Linked DNA regions of Homo sapiens. The protein of the gene in region 3 purifies or fractionates together with the protein of the main gene of each other region. This does not show direct contact. Each region holds a gene or a part of one and is shown on either strand. Other genes may lie near its edges. The genes, in order: DNAAF9, MAP7 and CTIF.

Evidence for each region.
Region 1: the proteins of CTIF (region 3) and DNAAF9 fractionate together in Homo sapiens (co-fractionation; one large-scale study listed by BioGRID). This does not show direct contact.
Region 2: the proteins of CTIF (region 3) and MAP7 purify together in Homo sapiens (affinity purification with mass spectrometry, with the first as the bait; one study listed by BioGRID). This does not show direct contact.

What each region holds. Positions count from the first base shown.
Region 1 is NC_000020.11:3,250,556-3,254,204, reverse strand, and holds part of DNAAF9 (dynein axonemal assembly factor 9), read left to right. Parts: intron 1-385; coding exon 386-479; intron 480-1,520; coding exon 1,521-1,633; 3' UTR 1,634-3,649. UniProt on the Homo sapiens protein: May act as an effector for ARL3.
Region 2 is NC_000006.12:136,543,902-136,547,550, reverse strand, and holds part of MAP7 (ensconsin), read left to right. Parts: intron 1-3,649. UniProt on the Homo sapiens protein: Microtubule-stabilizing protein that may play an important role during reorganization of microtubules during polarization and differentiation of epithelial cells. Associates with microtubules in a dynamic manner.
Region 3 is NC_000018.10:48,856,913-48,860,404, forward strand, and holds part of CTIF (CBP80/20-dependent translation initiation factor), read left to right. Parts: intron 1-675; coding exon 676-729; intron 730-2,431; coding exon 2,432-2,647; 3' UTR 2,648-3,492. UniProt on the Homo sapiens protein: Specifically required for the pioneer round of mRNA translation mediated by the cap-binding complex (CBC), that takes place during or right after mRNA export via the nuclear pore complex (NPC).

The DNA.
Region 1 (3,649 bases), on a different chromosome or scaffold from region 3:
CGGGAGGCTGAGGCAGGAGAATTGCATGAACCCAGGAGATGGAGGTTGCAGTGAGCCAAGATCACGCCACTGCACTCCAACCTGGGTGACAAAGCAAGACTCTATCTCAAAAAAATAAATAAATAAATAAAAGAGTGTGTTTGCACATCAGTACCACTGCACACCGTGGGAACTTCATCCCACTAGGACCTCCCAGAGCTCCTCACCTGAGAGGTGGGGAACCACCTCAGGCAGGGCTTGAGGTTTGCCGGGGGTGTTAGCTTCCTAGCTCCTCTGTATAGCAGAGTAGTCTATCTTGCTAGGGAAATAGACTTGTTTGTTTTAATGAGTGAGTGAAGTATAGAAAGTAGTCAGATAATTATTACAGGTCTCTTTTCTCCTACAGGTAAAACGCCACTTGGAACCCCTACCTGCAGGCTACTTTTATAATGGCACCCAATTTGTTAACTTCTTTGGTGACAAAACTGATTTTCACCCACGTATCCTTGGAACAGCGTGGTCCCTGTGTGGAACCCGGGCAGTGAGGCTGGGAGTGTGTGACCCTGTCTGCAAAGCGGTTGTCTGCCAGAGCCATGCATTTGAGCCCCAGGAGCACTCTGCATGTCCACTGATGGGTCAGGAATGCACAGGGGCAAACCTCAGGGGCGAACTTTTCATTTCAGTCTCTAAAGCTGTTAAAGTTAAATTGCTCCTTTATTGAGTGATTGCTAATGTGACTCTGGGTTATAGTTTTTTGGTTTTGTCTTGTTTTAATTTTTTTTTGGAGATGGAGTTTCACTCTTGCTGCCCAGGCTGGAGTGCAATGGCGCAATCTCAGCTCACTGCAACCTCCGTCTCCCAGGTTCAAGTGATTCTCCTGCCTCAGCCTCCCGAGTAGCTGGGATTACAGGCGCCTGCCGCCGTGCCCGGCTAATTTTGTATTTTTAGTAGAAACGGAGTTTCTCCATGTTGGTCAGGCTGGTCTCAAACGCCTGACCTCAGGTGATCCTCCCACCTCAGCCTCCTGAAGTGCTGGGATTACAGACATGAGCCACCGCGCCCAGCTTAGAGACTAGGTCTCGCCATGTTGCCCAGGCTGGTCTCAAACTCCTGGGCTCAAGTGATCCATCTACCTCAGCCTCCCAAATTGCTAGTATGGCAGGCATGAGCCACTGCGCCCAGCCTGTGAGTTATAGTTTGGATGCAGCTGCGGTGATATCCTGAAGTCTGTCGTCATCAGAGTCACGATTTACAAGTCGAAGACAGCCTAATTACAACAGTTAACCTGTGAAAAGATGGATAGGGCTGAAGCTGAAGGGCTCAGTTCTAGGACCTCATTAACATCCCTGTGACAACAGCCATTGCATTCTTTGTAGCTGTGGTGCTGCCAGTATATACAAAGAGTCCATCAGGTTCCCTCTCTATGGGCCAGACACTCACTTCCTCAGCAAACCCCCCTCACCTGCCTACAGGCCGCTCTGGGCTCAGGCAGCCTCCCTTGTCCTCCAGGCTCAGAGCTCTCTTCCTTAATGAGATACCAGTCATGGACCAGTTCATGAATGACTACGTGGAAGAAGCCAACCGGGAAATTGAGAAGTATAACCAGGAGCTGGAACAGCAGGAGTATCATGACCTCTTTGAGCTGAAGCCCTAGAGGAAGGCTGGGCCCGTACGTCCTGCAGAATGTCCACCTTGGAGATGGACGAACGGGTGTCTTAACCTCAGCTCTGCTGGAGGCCTCTCCCTTAAGGGGCTGTCTTTGTTCTCCTTGGCCTGTGTGGGCTGGCTTGAGTGCATGTTGTCTTTATTCCCTGTATAGCGCTGAAGAGCATCACCTGCACCATTGATTTTGGGGGTCGGGGGAATACTCAAGGATGAGCAGATGGGGCCTGCCCGTCTACGTGTGCAACTGGCAGTCCAGGAGCTCTGGGTTTCTGATAACAGGATCTCCTTTGGGCTCTTGAGGTTGGGGAGAAGCATTAGGATTACACAGAGGAGCTACTGGGACTTAGAAGGAACCCTGGCTGCCTGAACTGTGGCCGTGTCTGGGAGGCGAGGCCACGACAGGCCTCAAGCCTCAGATGCTGCTCCACGAGAGCCATCTTCCCCAGTGGAGTGCCTGCCTCCCCTGCTAGGCCCGTTTCCCTGAAGGAGCTGGCCGTACTGGCCGTGGGCCCAGTCCTGGGAGGAGCAGCACAGCCTTGCCCAGGCCCAGTCCACAGAGCCAGCAGCTTGGGTTGAGATGAATGATGTGTTCACAAATGAGGGGATTTCCCTTCTGGACTAAACTGAAGGAGAGGCTTGTTGCTTTCCAGAGGTGTGTGGCTCTTAAGTTGACATCAGCTTTTCCCCTTGTGGGTGGTTCTTTAGCTCTCCTGTCACACCATTCGGGTGTCCTAATGTAGGGACAAGAGCAAGCCTGCTGCTCAGGCCCCCTGGCGAGGCTTCACCTCACTGTGGAAGGGGGCGTCCTGCAGCTGGTTAGTCTTAGGCCTGGTGGCTGATCACTTGTGGGGTCAGTCTCCAGCACCCAGCGCTCCCACAAGCCTTGCCAAGGAAGGCCTGCTTTTCAGCCACAAACTTCAGGAAACTCATCCCCCCGCTCCCCAAAGTGTTGTTGCTGGCCCTGGGCTTGTGTGGCTCCTGAGGATTGGGAATTTCAAATAATTGCAATACCTGAGTTAGAATTCCTTCTAATGGCATCGTTTTAAGCTGGACCATAAAGCAGAGGGGAATTACAAGTGTGTCCCATGCCTGACCTTCATAATTGGTGTGGGGGACAGGGGAGTCACAGCCACTGATATTTAGGTGATGTCTCTTAGGACTTCAGTGCCTCAGCTGCCTGAACTGTAAATGTTTTCTGAATTTCACATATTTTTTTTTGCATGCCTTAGGAAGAAGCACATAGGTAAAACCAGCAGTTTCCAGTAATATAGGGGGTTTTTGAGCAAGGCCCCTGGAGCAGCGGAGAGACAAGATGGAGCACATGTAGTCTGTGTGCCTGGTCACACAGAGGCCTGCATGCAAGTAGCAAAGCAGCTCTCAAGGGCTTGTCAGTAAAATATATTAGAAAAAAAAAAAAAACAATTTGAAGCCAAATGAACAAAACTCCAGATACCATTGATAAGAAATTTTGCATCAAGAAGGGCTTCTGAAAAGACCCACGTGCTCCAGTCCCAGCTCCAAAAGCCACTGATGACAAGGGCCCCACTGTGGAACCTAAGTCTGGGAGCCCCCTGACTTCTGGCTGGCCAGAGGCTGCGGTCCGTCAAGGGCTTGCCTCGCTTCAGAATCAGTAACATAGATCTTAAGTGCAATTGATTAATAAGCAGTGAGTTACTGTAGCTTCCTTTAGCTCTACCGAACTCTTTTTAAAAACTCAAACTTGAGCAGCCTTAGAAAAGGGGTTGGGGGGTGGGAACCACAGGCCATTTCTCTAAGTGGGCTGCTGTGAAGTTTTAAATGAAAGCTCTAGCTTTAGGAGCTTGAGCCATTTCCTGACTGCACTGGCCTGGCAGTCTGGCTGCTGCAGAAGAGTTTTTAAAGAGGGGTCGGAGCCCGCCCGTGAGAGCGGGTCTTCTCACCATGTGGGGCTGTACTACGTGGTGGTCTTTGTTTCTCTTCACAGAAATGCTCTCTCACCAACTTGCCCCACTGTCCCAACTCCTCT
Region 2 (3,649 bases), on a different chromosome or scaffold from region 3:
TCACCACTAGAGGATGTCAAGTCCTTTTTCAGCCTTTTTTGAGTAGTCGACCTACGATGGGTGATATTCACAAAACTGCCTCTACCCAAGCTTTGTATATTTAATTTTATGTTCATGTTCAAGAGCTGTGGAAAGCGAGTGTACAGCACTAATTTCCTAGTCTGATAGCCTGTTTTAAAAACCTCCTGAACTAAAAGCAAATTTAAAGCTGCTTTTGATTAATTCATGAAGCTTTCATGCACGAAGGAATAAGTTAATGCCAATAACCTGTCAATTCTGTTGATATTTTGGGAAGTGGGTCATGACTTAGAATCTGGAATTGGGCTTTTTGTCCATTTTAGCAACCTGTGTGGTGAACATGGCCTCTTTCGTGACCATCCTTTCATGAACTTTTCCAAATCAAAAAGTGATCTTGTAGGTGTCACTTAACTCTAAGGGTCCACATTAAATATCTGCAATTAAATAAGGGCTCAGACGTCAATTTGGTATTAAGCTTGTCCCCTTTGAAAGAGATGCTTCATTCACATAGCTAGATAGCTTTTCTCCCATCCTATATGGCTGTTACCTTTACATCTTGCTAAGTAGGAGGAAACGTTATTATTAGACTAGGCAATTGTGCTCAGGAGCATGCATTTATGTAATATTGATAGGCTTGTGTGAAATATTTTTACACAGTTTATTTACACTGGCATTTTCTCTAAAAAAATTCTAACATCTTTGCCTCCCAATGCATGAGAAACAATCATTTGGAAGAGTTATTTTTAAAAACTCGGGCCTCGTATTGATGTAAGAATTGAAAATATTGAGGCTTAGAATAAGAAATGTGTACCTTCTGTGTATTCAGCATTATGGTGGTTAGAAGGCTGTTGAACAAATGATCCTTGAATTTAGCAAGGAAGACAAAATTCACCAACAAACAGTTGCAGGTTATGAGGAGTTCAGTGAAGGAGGAATCACTTCCGGCTGTGGTCAGCAGGAAGAACATACTGGATACAGCACTGAAGTTAAATTTTAAAAAGTGGTGGAACTGGAGATCATTATGTTAAGTGAAATAAGCCAGGCACAGAAAGACAAACATTGCATCTTCTCACTCATTTGTAGGATCTAAAAATCAAAACAATTGAACTCATGGACAGAGAGAGTAGAAGCATGGTTACCAGAGGCTGAGAAGAGTAGTGGGGGTAGGGGGTGGGAGGTGGCAGGGAGGTGGGGATGGTTAATGGTTTGAAAAAAAAAAAGGCCAGAGGCAGTAGCTCACGCCTGTAATCTCACCACTTTGGGAGGCTGAAGCAGGCAGATCACATGAGGCCAGGAGTTTGAGACTAGCCTGGGTTACGTGGTAAAACCCCATCTCTACTAAAAATAAAAAAATTAGCCTGGTGTGGTGGCGCACGCTTATAGTTCCAGCTCTTTGGGAGGCTGAGGCAGAAGAATCACTTGAACCCAGGAGGTTGAGGTTGCAGTGAGCCAAGATTGCACCACTGCACTCCAGCCTGGGTGACAGAGCGAGACCATGTCTCAAAAAACAAAAAGTTAGAAAGAATAAGAATAGTAACAAATACTATTTGATAGCACAGCAGATTGATTATAGTCAATAACTTAATTGTACTTTTAAAAATATCTAAGAGTGTAATTGGATTGTTTGTAACACAAAGGATAAATGCTTGAGGGGATGGATACCCCATTCTCCATGATGTAATTATTTCACATTGCATGCCTGTATCAAAACATTTCATGTACCATATAAATATATATACCTACTATTTACCCACAAAAATAAAAAAAAATTAAATTTGTTTTAATTTAAAAAATAAAAAAATAAACTTTTAAAAATGGGTAAGTGGGATATAAAATTAGATGGAGGAAAGGGAGAAAAAGATGCAGGTGTGAAAAAGAGCAAAGTTTTGGTCATATTGACACATGTGTAAAGCTCAAAGAAAGTCCTAGGTCAGTTAGGAATGATTGTTCATCGAAGTCAAATTGTGGAAGGGCTGAAGGCCAAACTGAGAGGCTAGTACATTTTTCTGGGGTAGGGTAGTGGGGGAAGTGTTGAGGATTCTTGAGAATAAAGGATATTGATTAAAGCAGGAATAATCAGGTAGTTCTGTGCCCATGAATCTTGAAATATTGATTGCAAGTTCTAACAAGAGCTCAGCTGTGCCTTTAGCTAATGAAAGCAAAGTTCCTCCCTCTGGGAAAGTCATTCTCTTCCATTGATTTTTTTTTTTTTTTCTTTTACTGCTTTGGGAAGGGTGCACCTGGAGGGATGAGAATGCATGAGGAATATCTGCCTAGCCAGATTAGCCAAATCTCTGGAGATCAATGAAGGGCTAGGTCTACTCAGCTGGTCCTCATTTCAAAGTAGCAACGTGGACTTGAGGATGGACTGAAGAAGAGTTCAGCGACATACACACCAACTTTGAGATTCCTGCAGAAATCCAGGCAGTCATTAGCATGGCAATAGGAAGAGACGATTAATTTAAGGTTCTGCAGGGGCATGTGTCAAAGGATTGCAGGTAAAAAGGTGACATATGAGACTTTTCCAAGTTTGAGTTTGGCTCATTGACTTATTGGAAAATATTCATGAGGAGGACCTGTTTTGTTCTTTACCCCAAAGAGATGGGGGGCGGGTCTTGCTATGTTGCCTGGGCTGGACTTGAACTCCTGGGCTCAAGTGATCCTCCCGGCTTAGCTGTTCGAGTAGCTGGGACTACAGGCATGCACCACTGTGTCCAGCAGAATCAGGTTTTGGTGGGAGAAACAGGAAAAAAACCTCTCTGCTTTAGACATGAAAATGTGTGGTACAAGAGAGATCTGTAAGTGGAAATGTTCAAAAGGCAACTGGAAGTATAGGACTAAAAGAGAAAAATAGAGGTCAGGACTCTGGGATTCACTCCATAAAGGAATAATAGCTGAAGGTTTGGGAGTGAGGAGAGCTCAGAAAAACCACAAAGGGGTGAGACGACCTGTAAAGCATGGGAGGAGGAAGAGCCAGCAAAGCAGACAGATGGAAAAGCACAGCTGAGCAATGTCACACCTGCTGAGAGGGATGGAGAGGTAAGGGATTCAAAGACTGATGAAGACATTTTATAAAAAGCTGTTGGTTTGGTTACAAATAGTCACTGACCAACCCCAGAAGAGGAATTTCAGTTGTTGGTGCAAGAGTTGGGGCTACATCAGATTAGAAGTGATTGTGAGATAAGCAGTTTGGGAAGAAAGGTAGCCAATTTAATAGACCCTCCCATAAAGCTTGCTGGTGAGAGGAAAAAATTACAAATCCTTGAATAGGCAGAGGGATTTTAAAAAATCTATTCTAAAATTTGCGTACAGTCCAGGTGCGGTGGCTCATGCCTGTAATCCCAGCACTTTGGGAGACCAAGGCGGGCAGATCGCTTGAGCTCAGGAGTTCGAGACCAGCCTGGGCAACATGGCAAAGCCCCATCTCTACTGAAAATACAAAAATTAGCCAGGTGTCGTGGCATACATCTGTAATCCGAACTACACAGGAGGCTGAGGCAGGAGAATTGTTTGAACCTGGGAGACGGAGGGTGTAGTGAGCCGAGATGGTAGCACCACATTCCAGCCTGGGCAACAGAGCATGACACCTTCTCGAAAAAAATAATTTGTGTGCAAAAAAAATTACGGATTT
Region 3 (3,492 bases):
GTATCTCAATTTAAAAGAGACAGAGAGATTGAGAGAATGAGCCAGGCAAGTCGGGGGAAGCATGGACTGTAGCACGGCAGGACTGAGCGCTGAGCAGCCCAGCCATGGCCCTAGTTAGGAAACAGTTCCAGCCCCTGAGTAAGTCCACAGGTTTGTGGGTTTGAAAGTCTACAGCACTGGGCCAGTGGAGAAGAGGGCTTTGACTCCTGGACTTCCTCCTGTGGCCAGGGCCCAGGGGTGCCTGAGTCAATGGCTGAACCTCCTCACCCATAGAGGAGTTACCAATTATACGTCTCTAAGCTAATTTCATTTCCCTGAGGACTTCTGCTGACCAGTTGTTAACACTGGATGATCCCAGCGCACTCACTGCTGCAGGCTTTCTCTTCAGTGGCCTCTTGAATCACGGTGTTCAGACCTGGCCCAGGGGCTCCACATCGCACCATCACACTGACCTCCAGCTGCTCTAACCCTGTCGGAGAAATCACGGCCACCCGGCGCAACTGACTTTCTGCTCTCTGACTTTTGTGGGCTCTCACTCTAGCCTGAACCTTGGAGATGTTTGTTACAGGCCGCATCAGGGCTGGGGCTGCAGGTCGGCGGGGGCTGCAGGGAGCTACAGGGCCCAGTAGCCGGCATGTCTCCTTCAGTGGTGCTCTCTGCCCCTCTCTTCCACAGCTCTTGCAATCTCAGGATGTGAAGGAAGATGCTGTCCTTTGCTGCTCTATGGAGGTAAGCTTTGGGGCTTCGACATCCCCAACCTCAAAGCCGGTGCATCTCTCATGCCTTAACAGTTCTAGGGGCACGAGGGTTGTTGGAGGCATTTACAAGTCCAGGGGAAGGTAGGTGGATGGCTTCAGGAGTGGGCATGGACTTCTGCATCCAGAATTATCCACCCCAAGCCAGAGTGAACACTGATGGTGAGAGCAGCTCACCCCTGACTGAAGGGAGAGAGAAGTGATTCCCAGTGGCATTGCCTACTTCCCTGTCCCCCAAAGACCCCCTGCGCCCCAGCTCAGGCATGCCACACAAATGACTTAAGAAGTTCCTGATTACCTCTGCCCTCAAATATTTCCCTTTGCTTTGCTAATGCTTGGCAATGCAGTGCTGGCACAGCCCACCCGAAAGCACACCTCTTGGGAGGTGCCACTCCTGTCCCTAAGCTGTGGCCCCTGCTAATGGAGACTCTTCCTCTGGGCTCTCCCTTTAGCGCCTGGCTTTGGCCCAGTCCCTGGGCAGATCTCTGCCCTCTGCAGATGGTCCAGAGTCACTCAGAGTGGGATGCAGGCAGGAGAGGGGCTTCCAGACGAGGACCTGGGCCTGGCAGCTGTCATAAGCATACTCAGGTGGCTTCCGCCTGGCTGCAAAGGCCTCACTGAGGAGCTCAGAGGCCAGAAGCACTGGGAGCCAGATGGCAGTCTTGGGTCTGTGGGACTCAGTTTGTTTGTTGGCCTCCAGCTGGGCACCCTACAGGGGGCTTGGGATTAGGGGGGAATTAGGGAGAAGGAGAAAGCCTGGTCCTTGCCCTCAGGCAGCTTCCAGTCTGGTTAGGAATAGCTCTCAGAGAGTAGATAGAATAAGTGTAAGTACAGAGACATCCCTGAAGAGTCAGGGGAGAGAGGTCAGGAAGGGCTCAGGGGTTCAAGGGAGGCTTTGTGAAGAAGGCAGAGACTAGAAAAATGAATGGGACAAGGCTGGGGACCGAGACGGGGACTGAGATTCTATAGAGAGGGCCTGGGGGGCACTGGCCAGGGGTGTGCTGGTCCAGGAATAGGGGCTCCTTCCCAGTGGGCTTTTCAAGATTATCTAGGGCTCTCCTGACGGCCTCTGGCTGGCCTTCTTCCCCAGTTTGTATTTCTCTCCCCCACTTCCTGTCACAAGCATGAGCAGAGGTCACTTCTGGGGGCTGGGAGATGGGATCAGGATCAGGAGAAAAGGAGAGCGAGAGAAACAGGAGGCATCACCCCTGCTCTCAAGTTCCAATGGACACATGTAATAATGACTAAGCTCATTGCCAGAGAGACGCCCCAGCAAGTGAAAATGACCACAGGGCCCCCTGATCACCAAGGGGCACAGATCATGGAGCCATTTGAGGGTGCGGATGTAGTCAGGGAAGGCTTCCTGGAAGAGGGAGGCTCTTGGGTAAAAGGGACAAGAGGCATGTTCCTGGTGACAGCTCTTTCAGCCCTGGGCAGTAGGCAATATTCGGATCCCTCTGGATCCTGCTGGCAGATTGGTTGGTAAATGTGAGCTCTCACTCTTGGCTACTCCACCTTCCACTCTCCCTGTCCTCATTCCAGCTGTGGCACAGGGGTCTGGGCCTGTGTGTCCTTAAGACAACCCAGCTATTTCCTATCCCTGCCCACCTAATCAGGGTGGCCAGTGGGCCACTGTGGGACCCGAGGCCATCCTAACCCCACATCTCTGTCTGCAGCTGCAGAGTACAGGCCGGCTGCTGGAGGAACAGCTGCCTGAGATGATGACAGAGCTCCTGGCCAGCGCACGGGACAAGATGCTGTGCCCCTCGGAGTCCATGCTGACCCGGTCGCTGCTCCTAGAGGTCATCGAGCTCCACGCTAACAGCTGGAACCCTCTGACGCCCCCCATCACGCAGTACTACAACAGAACCATCCAGAAACTGACAGCCTGACAGCCAGGGGGCCTGGCAGGCGGCCCACGGGCAGCTGGGGCCCTGGTGCACAGGGCCAGATGGACAGGCGGGAGGACAGGGGTGGCCCTGGCGGGAGAAAGAAATGGGGAGGAGGGCAGGCAGAGTCGGTGGCCAGTCTGGAGCCAGACGGGGAAGGGAGCAAATCCCTGAGAGGAGTGCCCCCGCACAAGCCCCCCAGCCCGAGCATGCAAGCTCACACCAATAAGGGAAGCATGTTTCTTTTTCCTGGTGGCCCTGGCCCTCCCCTTCCTCACTCCCGCCTCTCCCCTCCCCATCAGACCCATCCCCCACGGAGCTTTGTGTGAGGGATCTCATCGCTGTGACTCCTCGGAGACCTTGGCAGCCTCGCACGCCGGGGCACCGCTTGGGTCAGAAAGGACCTCGGAAGGCTGAAAAAGTGGGTCGGAGACGGGCTCGCATTGTTCCCGCATGCTGTCAGCCGCAGTCGCCAACTGGCAGCAGGCGACGTGTAGCAGATGTCCGGGAGGACAAAGGCAGGCACGGTCCCCACCAGCCGCCCGTAATTGACGGCCTTTGTCAGCCATGGCAGAGCTGACGCTCCACCTCCCACCTCCAAGTCCTCCTCACTGCAGCCCCCACAGCCTCAGGCCTAGGGGGTCAGGCGCAGCGGGGGAGATGGAGTTTGCAGTTCCACTTGCACTCTTTTGTTTATTGTGTTTTATTTTTCAAAAGTCGGTTGCTTTGAAGTCTCTTTGGCCAATGAAAATGCCCGTGATGTGATCACACAGTCAGCACTGTTGAGGACCCCCGGATTAGTGGGAGATCAAACCCAGCTCCCCTCTAGAAGAAGGATTCGAGCCACA